Homo sapiens: one gene and its partner. The main gene of each other region encodes a partner of the protein of the gene in region 2 in a complex. Each region holds a gene or a part of one and is shown on either strand. Other genes may lie near its edges. A codon is read from its position in the direction of its gene.

Region 1 (8,991 bases), on a different chromosome or scaffold from region 2:
GGGGGGACGTGGCAGGGACGGGGACCTGAGCAGGAGGAGGATGTGGGGACGTGGCAGGGACGGGGACCTGAGCAGGAGGAGGATGTGGGGACGTGGCAGGGACGGGGACCTGAGCAGGAGGAGGATGGGGGGAGGTGGCAGGGACGAGGACCTGAGCAGGAGGAGGATGTGGGGACGTGGCAGGGACGGGGACCTGAGCAGGAGGAGGATGTGAGGAGGTGGCAGGGACGAGGACCTGAGCAGGAGGAGGATGTGGGGAGGTGGCAGGGACGGGGACCTGAGCAGGAGGAGGATGGGGGGAGGTGGCAGGGACGGGGACCTGAGCAGGAGGAGGATGTGGGGACGTGGCAGGGACGGGGACCTGAGCAGGAGGAGGATGGGGGGACGTGGCAGGGACGGGGACCTGAGCAGGAGGAGGATGTGAGGAGGTGGCAGGGACGGGGACCTGAGCAGGAGGAGGACGGGGGGGCAGGGGGTGGCAGGAATGGGGACTGAGCCTGCTCATGCTGCTCCCCATGCCATCGCCTGGCCCCCAGGACGCTCCCCGCTCCGGATGTAAGGCCTGGCTGCCAGTGCCTCCCACTCTGCTGGGTGCCCTTTCTTCGTCCGCACGCGGTCCCCTCTGTCCCGCCCCATCAGCCCTTCTCCGGCCTTCCCTGCCTCTCCCGCTTCCTTCTGTGCCCAGTTGTCCCCGTGCTTGTCTGGTGGTGGCTGCAGCTCTTTGCTTACTCATTCCCAGGTGGGTCCTTACCCTGGCCTCCCCCAGCCCCGTGGGTCTCCATCTGTGTTACTTCTGTCCCATGCTCTTCTGCAGTTGCCCACCTAGAGCTCCTCCCTTGGGAGGAGTCTCCTAACCAAAGTCTCCATCGGGGCCATGACTTTCCAAAATTTGAGACGAGTTCTGACCCTGCTGCAGCATGAGGCTTCCCAGGAGCCCAGGAGCCAGGCGGCTGGAGGAGCTGCTCTGGGGGGGCCCTCCTGGCCTGTGGCCCATGTCCCAGAGTGCCAAGAAACTACCCAGACACTGGGCAAGACAAACCAGGCACTGCCTGTGGCCCTGGTGGCAGAGCCCGGGGGCTTCCTGACCTGGTCCTTGGGGAGAGTCGGAGCTGCCCTTCCCTGGAGAGACACCGTGGGTCCTGGAGCCAGAGGCTTGGCATCCGCTGAGCTGGGGTCGTGAAGCGTCCTAAGCCCACCCACGCACCTCATCCCGAGGAATTAATACTTCTGAGGAGACGAAGGAAACCACTTACCCTTATATCGTCTCCAGAATTCATCCTTTAGAGTTAAAACATAAAAATGTTACAAATGGGATATTTGTTTTTCTATATTCTTTCCTGTAGATGAACTTGAAGGTAAGAAAATGTTGATTTTATTCACTTAATAGGACAATAGTGGTTGAAACAATGCACAATTTTCCTGTTTTACAGCCTATTTGTTTATGTTAAATGTATAGTAACTAAATGTATCTGTAAGATATATTACTCAACATGTGCTTACCACCACCTATTTGAGGAAGGCCAGAGTCTATGACATGGCACAAACCCACCACCCACAGCCCCTAACGTGGCCCTTCCCTTCTAGGGCCAATCTCCACGCCACCCTCCACAAAAGCACATGATATAGAAGTCACATCACCTTTTCGCTTTTTATAAACCGAGTTGAATTTTAAAGATATATACCTCTGTAGGGAGTGGGGACACTTAGTTTGGGGTAGGAGTATCTAAAATTAGGAGAATTATTCAGACTTGAAGCCTAGAAAGAAAATGTATGCTGGGTGTCTGATCAGTGTGTGGGCCTTGCCTGACCTGAAGAAATGAGTCCAGTGGGCTCTGAGCTGACTTCCAGCCCCACTCACTGCTGTAGGGAAAGGTGGATTAAGTCGATTCTCTAAATTGTTTCCTCATCTGTAAAACTGGGATTGTGTCAACCTCATCGGTAAGTAAATAGGCTAATTAATTAAGCTTAATCTCTGAGAAATGATGCTCCCTGGGCCAGCAGAAGTCTAAATAATGAGGAGGCCTGTGGTTTGTGGTGGGGGTACATACAGTGACTACTTCATTTTCAAACACTTCTCTTGCTTCTTCATAGACACAGATTTCTTCATAACATTCTTTTTCCAAGTTTCCCTCGAAGAGTTCTTCCAGAAGATAGGAGCCCGCACGCTTCCACCTCACCAGAACGTCGTTTGCTTTGGAGGCCGGGAGAAATACTACAGACGAGACAAGAAGGCAGGTGACTGGGAGCACCGAGGGCCCTGCTTTCCAGAGCTGCCTGGCTTCCTCCCCGGCCGGCCGCCAGCCCCAGCCCCGTCCGTCTCCACAGGCTCTCAGCCTGCGAGGGCCTCAGGGCCACCCCGCTACTCCCTCCCCCGAGGTAGGCAAGCACTTCATCCTCTGGGCGAATGGATCAGCCCCAGGATCAGTGCGGATACACTAAGGTTCTGCAGAGAGGCCACGGGCCTCAGTCAGGAAAGTGGAGGAGGGAGGGCTCCAACTGGGTTTTGGGTCTGAGTGCGAAGGAAGGCTGAGCTGGGGTCAAAGGTCCCCGTACTGAGAACTGGGGACCAAGAGCCATCAGCTCCTGTGCTGCCTCTGTGCGCAGCATTTAACATCTTGATAAAACACATAAAGAAGAAACTTATACATTGCAGCAGGCTCTGCGATTTCCAGGAGGAGAAGGCAAATGAGTTGACCCGCGGCAGTGGTCTCTGGAGCCTCTTCCCACCTGAGGGTCCCAAAGCATGTTCTCTCCCTCTCCGGGAGGGTCAAAGCCCAGGCCCTTCCCATCCTCCCTCCTTTTCTCTCGGTGCTGAGGGTTACAGCAGGGGGGGCTCAGCTAAGTCCGGCTACGGTAAGTGCTGGGCAGGGCAGGGCGGGGGGATCACCCTCTCAGGGTGGGAGACCATGGGGCCAGCGGGAGACCATGGGGCCAGCGGGGATGCTGGGTGTTTTGACTTGCAGCTTTCCTGGACGCCTGTGCAGGCAGAGTCAGAATGGAGTCCATGTCGTTCCTTCAGTGAAGTGGCTGGTGGTAGAAGGGTGGCAGGCAGGCAGGGTGGCTGCTCCCTGGCTATGTCTCCTGACTCAAGACTGGGCATTCCTGGCTGGCCTGGCCAAGGCTCTCTCTGCCCACATTGCAGTCTGGGCTCAGCCTGCCCCACCCCCTCCCCTCGTCCAATGCCCAACCCAGGCCTCCCCCCACTCCTCCCCCTTTCCCCCTCCCCTCTCCCCGGCCTTTCCCGGCTGAATCCCCTGCACACAGGCTTCTTTCCATTTGGGCATCTCTTGGGAGGACCCCAAGTGACACTATCATGTCCCAAATACTTGTCACCAAATGATAAAGATCCAAACAGCTTTTTCAGGGGAATTAAGACTAGTCTGGGCACTCAGGGCTCCTCTGGCTCCTGGAAAAAGCCTCATCTACAAATCCACCATGGACCGAGTCAAGAAAGACACAGCACAGGCACAACAGACAGGTAAGCCAGATGCCTACCTGAGGGCTCCACACGATGGAGGGCGAGGACCAGGACCAGGCCCTGGAGCAGTGGGACGCAGCCTGCCATTCCCACCCGGAGCGCTGGGACAGGGCTACAAACACAGCCAAAGTCCAGGCTGGGGGAGGTGCCGGCAGCAGGAGCCTCGGGGCACGACCTGTGCAGCTGTGTGCTTCCCTCCTGACGTTTTCTGTTTGAGGCCAGGCAGAGAAATGAACGGTGAAGGCTCAGAGGACCCTGGGAGATATTTAGGGAGACAGAGAACAGAAGGTAAAGGCAGCAGGTGCAAGGTGGAAGGTGGCACCCATGCCCGTGTGTGGTCAATGGAGGTGAGATAGGCCCTGGGGACACAGCACTGGGCGGGACAGACAAAGTCACATGCAGCTTACGTTCTAGGTGTGTGTGGAATACACAGAAAAGAACGAGGGAAAGAGACAGGAGGGAGTGAGGGAGGGAAAGCAGGAGGATGGAAAGAAGGAAGGGGAGAAAAGGAAGGGAGGGAGGGAGGAGGGAGAAAGCGGGGAAGGGCCAAATAGTGTCTGTCACTACAGCTCAGCACCATTGTAGCAGAGGCAGCATAGACAATCATGAATGAACACTTGGCTGTGTGCCAATAAAGCTTTATTTATAAGAGCTATTAAGGGGCCAGATTTGGCCCCAGGGTTGTCGTTTGCTGCTTTCAGATGTAGGCCCTGTGTATTAGTCCCTTCTTACACTGTTATGAAGAAATAGCCAAGACTGGGTAATTTAAGAAAAGAGGTTTAGTTGACTCCCAGTTCCACATGGCTGGGGAGGCCTCAGGAAACTTATAATTATGGCAGAAGGCACCTCTTCACAGGGTGGCAGCAGAGAGAATGACTGAAGCAGGGGAAATGCCAGATCCTTATAAAACCATCAAATCTCTTGAGACTCACTCACTATCCCAAGAATAGCATGGTGGAAACCACCCCCATGATTCAATTACCTCCCACCGGGTCCCTCCCAGGACACGTGGGGACTATGGGGATTACAATTCAAGATAAGATTTCGGTGGGGACACAGCCAAACCATATCAGCCCTTGAAGCCTGAGGTAAGAACCTGGTGTTTCATTTTCACTGTGTTGGGAAGATATTGGAGGGAACAGGAATTGACATGGAAAGATTTGTGCTCTGAAGGGATCACTGGGCTGCTGTGTGGAGAACAGAACATTCCAGAGAAGTCAAAAGGGAGGCTGCCGGCTAGTCCAGGAGGGGGTGAGGGTGCAGCCATGCAGCAGGAAGCACGTTTGCAGTCTGGATGCTTCAGGAAGGGAAAGCTGATGGGATTCATGATGAATTGTGTCGGGCAGCACGGCTCCAAGGTTTGGGCTGAGCGATTGGGAGGATGGCAGTGCGTGTGCTGAGACGGCCAAGCTCCAGGAGGGCAGAGGGAAGCGAGGTTTGGCAAATTTGAGGTGTCTGTGGGATGTCCAGGTGGAGACAGGAGTGGGCATCCGAGAAGCTGGGACTCACAGTGGAGATTCAGGTGGTAACAGATGAAATGACAGCATTGTCAGCATATAGATATTGTTCGATTGAATGACACTCAAAGGTGGCAAAACTCAATGAAAGGATTCTAAATACAATTTTGTTAAAGTGGGAACAGAAGAAAACTAAGAAGCTGACACCCTTGATTAAGAGGGCATGCCCGCAAATACACTGAAGTTGTGAAGTTTGCTTTAAAAAGCTGGGAAAAGAAAATAAAGTTTATCTTTAGTGAGTGAGTTAAAATAATTTGAAAGCCAGAAGTTGATTGTATAGGATAGCTCTTGGGTGAATTGCACCAGCCTGGCAATCTACGTGGCCTTCACTTAAGAAAAGGTGCCTTTTTTTGTGTGAAAATGTATTCCCACATGGAAATTTACATTAAAAATACTTCTGCTGGATAGTTTAAAAACCATCAATAGCTGCCTAAAAATGGAAAGGCAGACAGGGACATACACATTCGATCAATAAGTGTTAATTAAGCACATCCTATATGCCTGACATGGGTATCTGAGCTACAACCTCTTCCCTCATGGACCATTTTAGTCTGTTGGGGCTGCTGTAACAAAACACCTTAGAGTGGGTAATTTACGATAAACAGAAACGTAGTGCTCACAGTTCTGGAGGATGGGAAGTCCAAGATCAAGGCTCCAGTAGACTCAGTGTCTGGTGACGGCCCATGATTCATAGACGTGTCCTTGGATGGTGGAAGGGAGGAATGTGGGTGCTCCCTGGAGCCTCTTTTGGGAGGGCAGTCATCCATCCATGAAGGCAGAGTGCCTCCCAGAGGCCCCACCTCCTAGTACTATTGCACAGGGGGTTAGGTTTCAACGTGAGTTTTGGGGGATGGTTTGGCTCTGTGTCCCCAACCAAATCTCACCTTGAATTGTAATAATCCCCACAGGTCAAGGGCAGGACCAGGTGGAGGTGATTGAATCATGGAGGTGGTTCTTGTGATAGTGAGTGCATTCTCACAAGAGCTAATGATTTTATAAGGGGCTTCCCCCTGTGATTGACACACATTTTCTCTCTCCTGCCACCCTGTGAAGAGGTGCCTGCTTGCCATGATTATGTTTCCTGAGGCCTCCCCAGCCATGTGGAACTGTGAGTTCATTAAACCGCTTTTCTTTATAAATTACCTAGTCTCAAGTATTTCTTCACAGTGACATGAGAACAGACTAATACAGGAAGGCATCAACATCGAGGCCACAGCTGTGATTGACTGTGTTGTACGTGGACTGACCGTGTTGTATGTGGTGATTTAATTTTCTCATCTGCCTTCTCAAAGATACCACCTTTGGACCAAAAATTCTACAATAATAAATTGTCCAAACATTAAGATTCACCTCGTTCTACTCATCTTCCTCATCTCTCATATGAATAATCGTTCTTCTGTCACCCTCTTCTGTTCTGAAAAACAAACCAACCAACATTGGGACACTTTTTCCATTGACTGGTTTACTTTCCTTCTGTATACCTGAGGAGAATCTTCCTTCCTTTGGGGTCTTTGTCGTGTCCTTCAGATGTTGGGGTGTCCTCTGTGGGGGTCCCCAGCTTAAATCAACTGACCCCACAACTTTGTGTGGAACCTGAAATGAGCAGCCTATGGAGAACCTGGTCATTGAATACTTAGATCTTGCCGCAGTCCCTATTTAAATACCTGTTCAATCAACTCTGGGACCTATGTTTTAGATTTCAACATCTCTGAATTGGCCTGTTCCCTACAGCCAATGTTCTAATGTCAGCCTGGACAAGGCCGAGTTCTTCCTGAAAGGGGTTGTGCTTTATGTTGCCCCCTGGGGGCACTGCCACTTTGCAATCCCTTTAAATACATTTTTTTGTGTGAGTTTTGGGAGCCCATGTGAATAGTGTAAATGTATTGCAAAGCTGGTTCCTGGCTGGCCTGTGGTTTAGATTATCTGAGCTTCCCCCTCTTGCCTCCAGGCTGAGCTGACCCACAGCTAATTTGGGTATATGCTCTTTCTTTCAGGTTCATCAATAATGGTGCGTCTTAGATTCACAGAGTAGAGTGTGGTCTAGTCCACTTTGTGGTGCTGTAACAGGATATCTGAGACTGGGTAATTTATAAAGAACAGAAATTTATTTCTTACAGTTCTGGAGGCTGGGACATCAAAGGTCCAGGGGCCCCCATCTGGCGAGGGCCTTCTTGCTGCGTCATCCCATGGTGGAAGGTGGATGCGCGTGAGAGAGAGAGAGAGAGAGAGAGAGAGAGAGAGAAAGGGGAGAGAGGAAGGGGGCCAAACTCATCCTTTTATTCCAAAATAACGAACCCACTCCTACAATAGTGGTATCAATTCATTCACGTGGGCTCTGACAATGAATGCGTCTTAAAGGTCCCACCTCTCAACACTGTTGCCTTGGGATTAAGTTTCCAACACGTGCACTATAGGGACACATTCAAACCACAGCATGCTGCATCCTCTGATGTCCACATTGTGGATGGAGGTGGCAGCTTATCACCTGGAGCTCCTGAAGAAATTAAAGAGGAGACACATGGTGACGCAGCCCACAGCCTGGCGTTTTTAGCATCTCAGAAGCACTGACAGGGACCCGCAAGCTTATGAGAAACTGTTCAACTCATTGGGCTTCCTCAGAGCTTGGGAGACCATTAATGTGGAAGACACTATCTGGACATGTTTCTCTTTTTTCCACCTGTCTAGATTTTCTTTCAGGATCGGGGAGACTTCTGGAGTAGAAAAGCCACTCCAGAACCCTTCCTCCTCCTCCCCCACACCCCGCCTCATGAGCGGCTGCCCTCCGCGTGGCATGGAGTCCCCGCGTCCACTCAGAACCCTTCCTCCTCCTCCCCCGCGCCCCGCCTCCCCCGCGCCCCGCCTCCCCCGCGCCCCGCCTCCCCCGCGCCCCGCCTCCCCCGCGCCCCGCCTCCCCCGCGCCCCGCCTCCCCCGCGCCCTGCGTCACGTGCCCCTGCCCTCCCCGACGCCCCGCCCCCCACGCCCCTCCTCCCCCACGGCCCGCCCCCCCACGCCCCTCCTCCCCCACGGCCCGCCCCCCCACGCCCCTCCTCCCCCGCGCCCCGCCTCCCCCGCGCCCCGCCTCCCCCACGCCCTGCGTCACGTGCCCCTGCCCTCCCCCACGCCCCGCCCCCCACGCCCCGCCCCCACGCCCCGCCTCCCCCACGCCCCGCCCCCCGCGCCCCGCCTCCTCCACGCCCCGCCTCCCCCACGCCCTGCGTCACGTGCCCCTGCCCTCCGCGCAGCATGGAGTCCCTGCGTCCCGGCTCCACGGTGCGGGAGTCCTCCGTGGTGGCTGAATTCGCCTTTCAGGCCCTATGTTCAGGATTTGTGATCTGGGTTTTAAAAACATTTTTTAGAAGTCATTGGTAATTAAAAACAATAAGTTTTTTATTGTGGTAAAATAGACATACAGTTTACCGCAGGAATCTTTTTTTAAGCGTACAGTTGGCTGACCCTGAGTGAATTCGCTGTTGATAATCTGCTTCTCCCTGAGCTGCTGTCGCCCACACTCGCCGCTGGCCGTGCTTGTTTTTCTCCTGGAACTGGGGCCGGTGTCCCTGTTGACCTTGTCCCGGGTAGCTGAGCCCAGGGGACTCTCCTTCCTAGGGTTACCGCTCAGTATCAGCACAGCCACAACGTCCAGCCAGGGAGGGCATCCGAGGCCCTCAGCACCCACCCCGGGGGTCCGGCCCGCGTCAGGCTGCGAGTTCCCGAGTCCCTGGACCCAGCTGTGCCTGCTGGGGTCAGCGCAGTCTGTGAGCCTCGACCCCCAGCTCCCAGCAAGGCCTCCCAGCAAGGCCTGTCGGAACCCAGCGGAGACCGGCGGCTGGGGCTTGTCCTCGAGCGGGGGCGCAGGACACGGGGCGCGGGGCTCCTGCCCTTGCAGCGTCCTGTCAGGATGGACGACCCAAGCCAGACGGCGCTCCCTCCCGCCACACCTGGCCGTACTGGCCTCCAGCCATGCCGGTGCTGCCGAGGCCCCCGTGTGGGACAGG
Region 2 (7,000 bases):
TCTTAGAAACAAGCTTAAAATACCAGACAGATTGCACAAACATCTTAAAAAATATGTATCAATTTAATGCTTTTGTAGTAGTCCTCCCTTATCCATGGTTTTGCTTTCTGCAGTCTCAGTTAACCATGGTCAACCATGGTCCAAAAACATTAAATGAAAAATTCCAGAAATAAACAATCTAAAAGTCTTAAGCAGCATGCCATTCTGAGTAGTGGGATGGAATCTTGCATTGTCCTGCTCTGTCCCACCCAGGATGTGAATTCTCCCCTTGCCCAATGTCTCCACACTGTCTATGCTCCTCGCCCATGAGTCACTTAGTAGCCTTCTCTATAATCAGTTTGACTGTTATGGTATTGCAGTGCTTGCATTCAAGTAACTCATTTTACTTAATGTTGTTATTATTGTTAATCTCTTACTGTGCCTAATTTATAAATTAAACTTTATCATAGGTATGTATGTGTAGGAAAAAATATATATAAGGTTCAGCACTGTCCACCGTTTCAGGCATCTGCTGGGGGTCTTTGAATGTATCCCCCTCAGATAAGTGGGGACTACTGTATTTATTTGAGAACACCCTAAACTAGTTAAGAACAAAAGGAACACTCTCCCCTGCCATCCATTGCTGGTATCCTGTGTGTGTTTGATACCTCAGATTCAGCATCTACTACAGCACGAAGTGCTTATGCGTGTCCTGAATTATAGGAGAGTCGGATTCACCACCCTGCCCAGAAACAGAAGCATTCCAGAGGTTTCTTCATAGATCATGAAATGAAATGGCCGGTCCACTTTGATGACAGGAGGCATGGAATAAGCAGTAATTTCTGACAAGATTCCTGCCACTGCCTCAGTGCCCCTTTCATCAACTTCAATCACTGTTCTTTGTAAAACCTGGAAAAAGGAAATAATGTGAAAAACCATTTGTGTGGCAGTGCAAAGGAGGAATTAAATGAGCCCCTTGAAATTCTTCACAGTGGTCCTACCCATGGGGTCATGCTCCTGGGATTTAGTGGAGCAGGCCCATCTACGTTAAGAGGAGTGGTCTGGGGTTGCACCAGGGACTGCCACAGGAGTCTTAAACAATACCAGGAGACCTCAGGAACCCAATGTGAAGTATTGTGGAATATGTGAAACACATTCCGGGCATGGACTCAGGATGCACTCATGCATCAAATCTTTATTGAGCATGTAATTTATGCTACTAATTCTTGAGCTGAGCTGGTGCTCCTAAAAGGTTTTCAAGCTGCCTGGATCCCTTGATCCCTGGATCCCTTGAGTCCTCTGACTTTCCTTTTGGCAGGCAAGGTGGAGGCAGGGAATGGCTAGTCTTCTGTAGCAGCTTCCCAGCACCTGGTACTACTCTGAGGCATTTTTCTGGGCCAAGCCCAGGGGTCCCTGGAGCCTTCCTGAATTCTGGCTGCCTATACTGTGGCTGCTTGCTATGTTTGGGAGGCCCTTTTTTACAGAAACAAGATGTGATATGAGTGATGTACCTATATAATTACTGTGTTATAAGAGATAATGAAAACATAACATGTAATTACACTGATTTTCACTCCAGGAAATTCCCTGATTTCCTAGAGGAAAATTAATTCCCCAGAGCAAACAGAGGGAGAATATTTAATCATTTACAGTTTAAATTTCATGATGACCCTTCATAAAGCAGCAGCGCATTTCAGTTTTTCATGTGTTCATAGCAGAAACACTTTCAGGTGCTGGTCTGACGGATTGTTTTATTTAATTGTCTTACCTCTCTTGAGGTTGTAAGACCTGATTCCAGGCCACAGTTACCCTACTGTGTCCTACTTAAGTGGATGCCATTTTTAGTCTCTCTTGGAATTGAAAATTGCAATTGTATAAGAAAATATTAAACCACACAGCTAAGGAAGAATGTAGAGAGATGTAGCTGCCATTTGGAAATGTGTGGGAGCATTTTTATAGTGATGACTGGAGTTTCCTACTGGCATTAGTGAACATGGGCCAGCAATGCTAACCAGTTCCCTGCAACATGCACAACTGCTCTGGACAACAAGCAGTTCCCCTCAAAACCAAGAACCCTTCCACTGAGAAACACTGAGTAACTGAAGGGATTCTATGTGGATGGTGACTAAACTTGTTCTTAGAAGTTTTAGAGATAGAACTAGGACCAAAAAGTATGAATCAGAAGTTACAGGACTCTCTCTCTCTCTCTCTCCATATATATATGTATGTCTCTCTCCATATATATATATATGTGTGTGTATATATATATACACACACACATATACACACATATACATTTATACACACATACATATATACATATATATACACACATATATATATATACATATAACAATTTTAGCTATTTGTGGATTGGGCAGCTCTTCAAAGAAATGGTGAGTTTGATGTCACTGGAAGCATGAAGAGGAAGAGAAGTTGGAGGGCTATTTCGTAGGGCTATGGAGGGGATTTCCACAAGGAGGGAGAAGTTGGGCTAGATGATGTCTAGGGGTTTGTTTCATTGTAAAGGTGGTGTAATTTCATGAACTATTCAAGTTGTATTCAACATAAATGATGATGCCTCTGTAAACCAGTTCTATTTCAGGGTCAAATTTCTCCCTGAGCACTTTAAGCAGAGGGGGAGAGGTCTGCTTAAAATAAATTAGTTGAAAAGTTATTTTAATGAAGTTGCTTGAAATTCTTAAAACATCCAACCTGGGTGCTATTTCAAGTATTTGGGACTTAAATCTAATTTTCCACTACAATTAGGTATTTTATCAAAGTTAAATGGTTTGTAAAAGCATTTGTTTTGGTGACATTTCATGCTGAGGTTGGGCTCTGATGAAAGATCCTGACTTACCCTGGATACTTGGAGATTTCTTCCAGTAGCTGAGAGTTCACTAAGGTCAGCAAAGGGTGAGAAGATTCTTCTGATTCCCATCTGCCTAAGCAGCTCATGCATCTCATACTTCTGATCTAGCTTGAACTTCGGAAAGAAAACTTCCATGTTTCTGTGGTACAAGAACAGATGATGGTGAAATGTAGACAAAGCCCTAGTCTGTGGACACCAAAAAGGTCACAATTTTTGTTCTTTAAGATTATTTCCATTAATGAGTCTTTCAGTTGACTATGTAGTTCATGCCATTCTTTTACAGTGGTCTACTCAGGGAAAATATTTCTAGCTTATCAAATAGTACTTCAGCTTCAGTGAATGAGTTTTATTCCTCAGCCAGTGACTCACGTTTTCTTTAGCAAAGTACTTATGTGTTCATTTCCCTATATTTTAAAAAAAACCTGAGTTAACAGCTGCTTTCAGCAGTCCTGCAGCCTCCTGGATGATGGCTGTTTTCAGCTCCTGGATTCTGCAGACCCGAGGAGTCTGGGGATGGATGGGGAGGGGAGCAAAGAAAACTTTCAACCCCTACCCGTCTTTAGCCAGAGAAGCTCTGATACCATCTATTTTGTATACTGGAGTCCTCCTTTGAAAATATGTTGCTTGAAAAGATGAGTTCTGTGGCTCAAAATAAAATTTTTTTATTTATTTAAAAATAATTGAGGACATGACGTGTCTTGAAGATTAATTTAAAAAGTTATTCATTCAGCAAACATTACTTGAGGGCTTATGATGTTTGGGGTTCATTGTTAGGTGCTAAAGATATGAAGAAAAATGAAAGAAGAATAATGAAGATAAAACTAACCCTGGGGACCTTTAGCTGCACTTGTCTGCCAAAATCTGAGTCACAGGATTCAGAAGCCATAGCCATGGAATTCGTATTGCAGCCATTTTCCTTGTACTCCAATAGGTGGATTAATTTATTGGGCAGACATTTCAGTGCCCACTCTGTGCTTTCTTTTCCTCTCCTCTATATTTACAGACCCCAACCCTGTCATGTGTCTAGATTCTAGTTCTGTGTTGATGACCGAATTTATATCTCCGGCCTGGACCTCACCCTAGACTCCAGATCCACCTGTCGTCTTGACATCTCAACTTGGATGTCTAATAGATATTTCTGATCCAAGTGTTTAAGACTGAACTTCTGCACTTACCCCAGACCTGTTCCTCCCCCTTTCAGTAAATGGCAAATCCGTCTTTCCAGTTGCTAAGGCCAAAAACTTTGTGATCACCTTTGACACCTCTCTCACCCACATCCAATCGATTAGCAGATCCTGCACTTCCTAATAGATCCAGAATCCAGCCACTTCTCACCACTTCCACTACCACCACCGCAGTCCAGGTAGCAGCATCTCTACCTGGATTGCTAGTAACTTTCTAACCACTCTCCCTTGCTTCCATCCTTACCCCCTAGTGTCTTTTCTCAACACAGGAGCTTATGTGATCCTTTAAAAACAGAAGTCAAAATCAGGTTGCTCCTCTACTCAGAACCATCCAGTGGCTTCCTGCCTCTCTCAGGAAAGCCCAAGTCTTTTCTGGGGACTGGGCCCCTGTTTCCTCTCTGATTTTATCTCCAACTGCTGAAGCCACACTTGTCTCCTTGATGTTCTTCAAACCCACCAGGTACACTCCCATCCCAGAACTTGTACACTTCTGCCTGTAACATAACACTTCTCTCCCCGAATATATCCACATGGTTTATCCTTCATCTTCAGATGTTTGCTTACTGTTACCTTCTTGGAGAGGCCTTGTCTAACCTCCATCTGCATCCTGATGATGCTTCTTGTCCCCTTCCCTGCATTATTACCTATTTTTAATTTACTCTTTGTCTTCCTTCAATAGAATGTAAGCTGCATGAGGGCAGACTAATTTTGCCTGTTTTGTTTGCTGATGGATCCCTGGCATCATATATTTATCACAGTCGCAGAACGTAAAATACTGATGGACTCAATGAATGAATCAGCCAGGCACCCTGTGACAGATGCTGGGGATAGAGTGGAAAAAAAGACAAATGCTGCCCTGCCTTCAGGAAACTTATAGCTCACTGGAGGAGACATTAAATCACGGTGCATTCAATGAAATTGTGCTGAGCGTTTGCCAGTACAGAAAGGTAGAGTTTGTATAGGGTGTGGGCAAGAGTTGTACCTGGTTTTCATGTTTCTGAGCCATGTCTCCACCAAGTCTGTGGTCAGGTAGTCTTCAAGGGCGAGGTGGTCACCCATTTTCTCCATGAGGACCACCAGCATGGTGGCATTTCCTTGGTAGGGCAGTTTGAGGACATGACAACGAAAATTCTTGTCAAAGGTGGAGGCAAACTTGCCTGCACCGTACATCATGGGCACCTTAATGGTCTTGTACTTGTCCAGGTGGAAAGTGTCGACTTCGGTGAAGACAGGGTCAAATGGGGTCAACCATTTCCCTGAACAAGTAAGAGAAGAACTCATTGCAGAAATTCCCTCTTTGAAAAGCATTGTTCTTGCTCAAATAATAGAGAGGGAGCCTTCTATCTCACTTCTCTCACTTCTCGTCTTCTCGTTCCAACTAGGAAAGGCGTTCCCTAATTGGGTTGGCTTTTCCACAGCTCAGGCAGGCAAAATAAATTTCCCCAAAATTTTCCCCGTCCTCTAGCCCAGCTAGCAAAATGCAGCTCCACTCGCAGGCCCTATTGGGAATCGCACACGAAAGCAGGGAAATGTTTCCTAACAATCCCTGGCTCCTCTCATTGTCCTGGACCTGAACGGAATTCACAGTCGTTCCCTCATAGTTGGCTCCAGCTTAGAGAAAAGCCTTTGCCTGGCACCTCTGACTGCCACTTTGTCTCATTCACACCAGGCACAAGCACATGCAGAGTCCAAGGTGGCAGGAGTGACACTTCTCACCCACCCACTGTTTAGTGTGGTTCTGAGAGAAGGCCCCACAATGCAGAGGCTACTAGCAGGCAGGTACATTACTCTCTACATAAACGTCTGCCCTGGGGGTGTGGCCTGGCTGGTTGTAAAGTGGCTTCCCCTGCCGGGGCTTTGTAAGTCTGGTGCCAGCTCTGCGAAAGTGGCATCCAACCCACGTCCAGTGCCCCATTAGGGAGGCAGGGCTGGACAGAACCTAGGATCAGGGGGTCAGGAGGCCCTTGTTTGGGTTTTGCCTCTGCCACTTACTGTGTGACCTTGATCAAGCTAACGTCTCTGAGCTGGTTTCATCTTTAGAAAGGAGACAACTCCTGCTCTACCTGCTGATTGGCAGTTTGGAAGAACAAGTAAACAATAGATACTCAGTGTCTGCTATGTGCCAAGCCCATCTGGGCACTTTACATTCATTGTCTCATTTAGCCTCTAACACTGTAGTAGGTGGAGTGTCCCTATTTTCTATAATAGGAATCTAAGGGCAGAGAGTTGGTCAAAAAGTAAAAATGAAGGAGCAATGATGCAATCCTAAATCCCCCAGATAATCCCCCAGCCCCCTGTTTTTTGGAAAGACCCTATGCTTCTAAGTGTCAGAGGGGAGCTATGTAGAGTGCTCTGAAAATAATAAGGACTACAAGCACATAGGATACCAGGGAAGGGCCTCAAATGACAGCGTCTGGCACTGTTCAATATGTGTATCAATCTGTTTTTGAAACGTGAAAACACATTCATAGAAAATCACGTAGCGTTAATCATATGCTGGCCTAACGAAAGGAAAGGGAGAGACAATCGTAGGGCCCTGTGGCCTTGGGAGAGCAGAACATTATCAAAGTACCTTTGAACAAGATGTAATCCACAAGAATTAATTTGGTTTCAGGATTAATCTCATCAAACAGTTTGGGAATTTTCCCCCGAGTCTCTTTGTTAATGTAATGATTCATGAGCCTTTTGGCCTGTGAGGCATTGCGAAAATTCATAGGCACGCACTCTGTATCAAAATACCTCTTGGATAAATTGAAGAAAGTCTCTTTGACATCAAAATCCTTGTGGATGAAGGCAAAACTCCCCTGTGTGAGGCCCAGTTCCAGGTTGCGGGAGAGGGTCTCTCTGAGTCCCTTAAAGAGGGAAGGCAGGAGCCCGGGCTTGGTGGGCTTCAGGGCCTGCAAGTGGAGCCCTCTCTTGATCTGGGTTTCAGTCGGCCCTGTGGCCCCCAGCATCAAGCCTGTCA

Evidence for each region.
Region 1: the proteins of SERPINA10 (region 2) and PROZ are in contact, whole or in part, in a crystal structure (PDB 3H5C), measured with the Homo sapiens proteins. Residues at the interface, in NP_001094077.1 of Homo sapiens: Arg88, Lys89, Ser91, Met92, His94, Asp95, His257 (codon at 5,241), Asp259 (codon at 5,235), Lys260 (codon at 5,232), Tyr261 (codon at 5,229), Asn282 (codon at 5,166), Phe283 (codon at 5,163), Lys305 (codon at 5,097), Met306 (codon at 5,094), Asp308 (codon at 5,088), His309 (codon at 5,085), Leu310 (codon at 5,082), Ala311 (codon at 5,079), Leu312 (codon at 5,076), Asp314 (codon at 5,070), Tyr315 (codon at 5,067), Leu316 (codon at 5,064); in NP_003882.1 of Homo sapiens: Cys129, Pro131, Cys141, Leu142, Pro143, Ser151, His250, Met251, Arg252, Asp254, Ala257, Glu259, Asn260, Glu284, Lys285, Asp286, Phe287, His290, Leu291, Thr336, Thr337, Arg338, Arg390, Ser392, Leu393, Trp394, Gln397.

The regions. Positions count from the first base shown.
Region 1 is NC_000013.11:113,153,235-113,162,225, reverse strand, and holds the start of PROZ (vitamin K-dependent protein Z isoform 2 precursor), read right to left. Parts: upstream 3,579-8,991; 5' UTR 3,566-3,578; coding exon 3,496-3,565; intron 3,028-3,495; coding exon of another isoform or gene 2,962-3,027; intron 2,213-2,961; coding exon 2,049-2,212; intron 1,279-2,048; coding exon 1,254-1,278; intron 1-1,253. Other genes in the region: F10-AS2 (WAS/WASL-interacting protein family member 2-like), read left to right, coding at 8,240-8,312, 8,456-8,991. UniProt on the Homo sapiens protein: Appears to assist hemostasis by binding thrombin and promoting its association with phospholipid vesicles. Inhibits activity of the coagulation protease factor Xa in the presence of SERPINA10, calcium and phospholipids.
Region 2 is NC_000014.9:94,283,269-94,290,268, forward strand, and holds part of SERPINA10 (protein Z-dependent protease inhibitor precursor), read right to left. Parts: coding exon 6,608-7,000; intron 5,292-6,607; coding exon 5,018-5,291; intron 2,991-5,017; coding exon 2,840-2,990; intron 889-2,839; coding exon 697-888; 3' UTR 1-696. UniProt on the Homo sapiens protein: Inhibits activity of the coagulation protease factor Xa in the presence of PROZ, calcium and phospholipids. Also inhibits factor XIa in the absence of cofactors.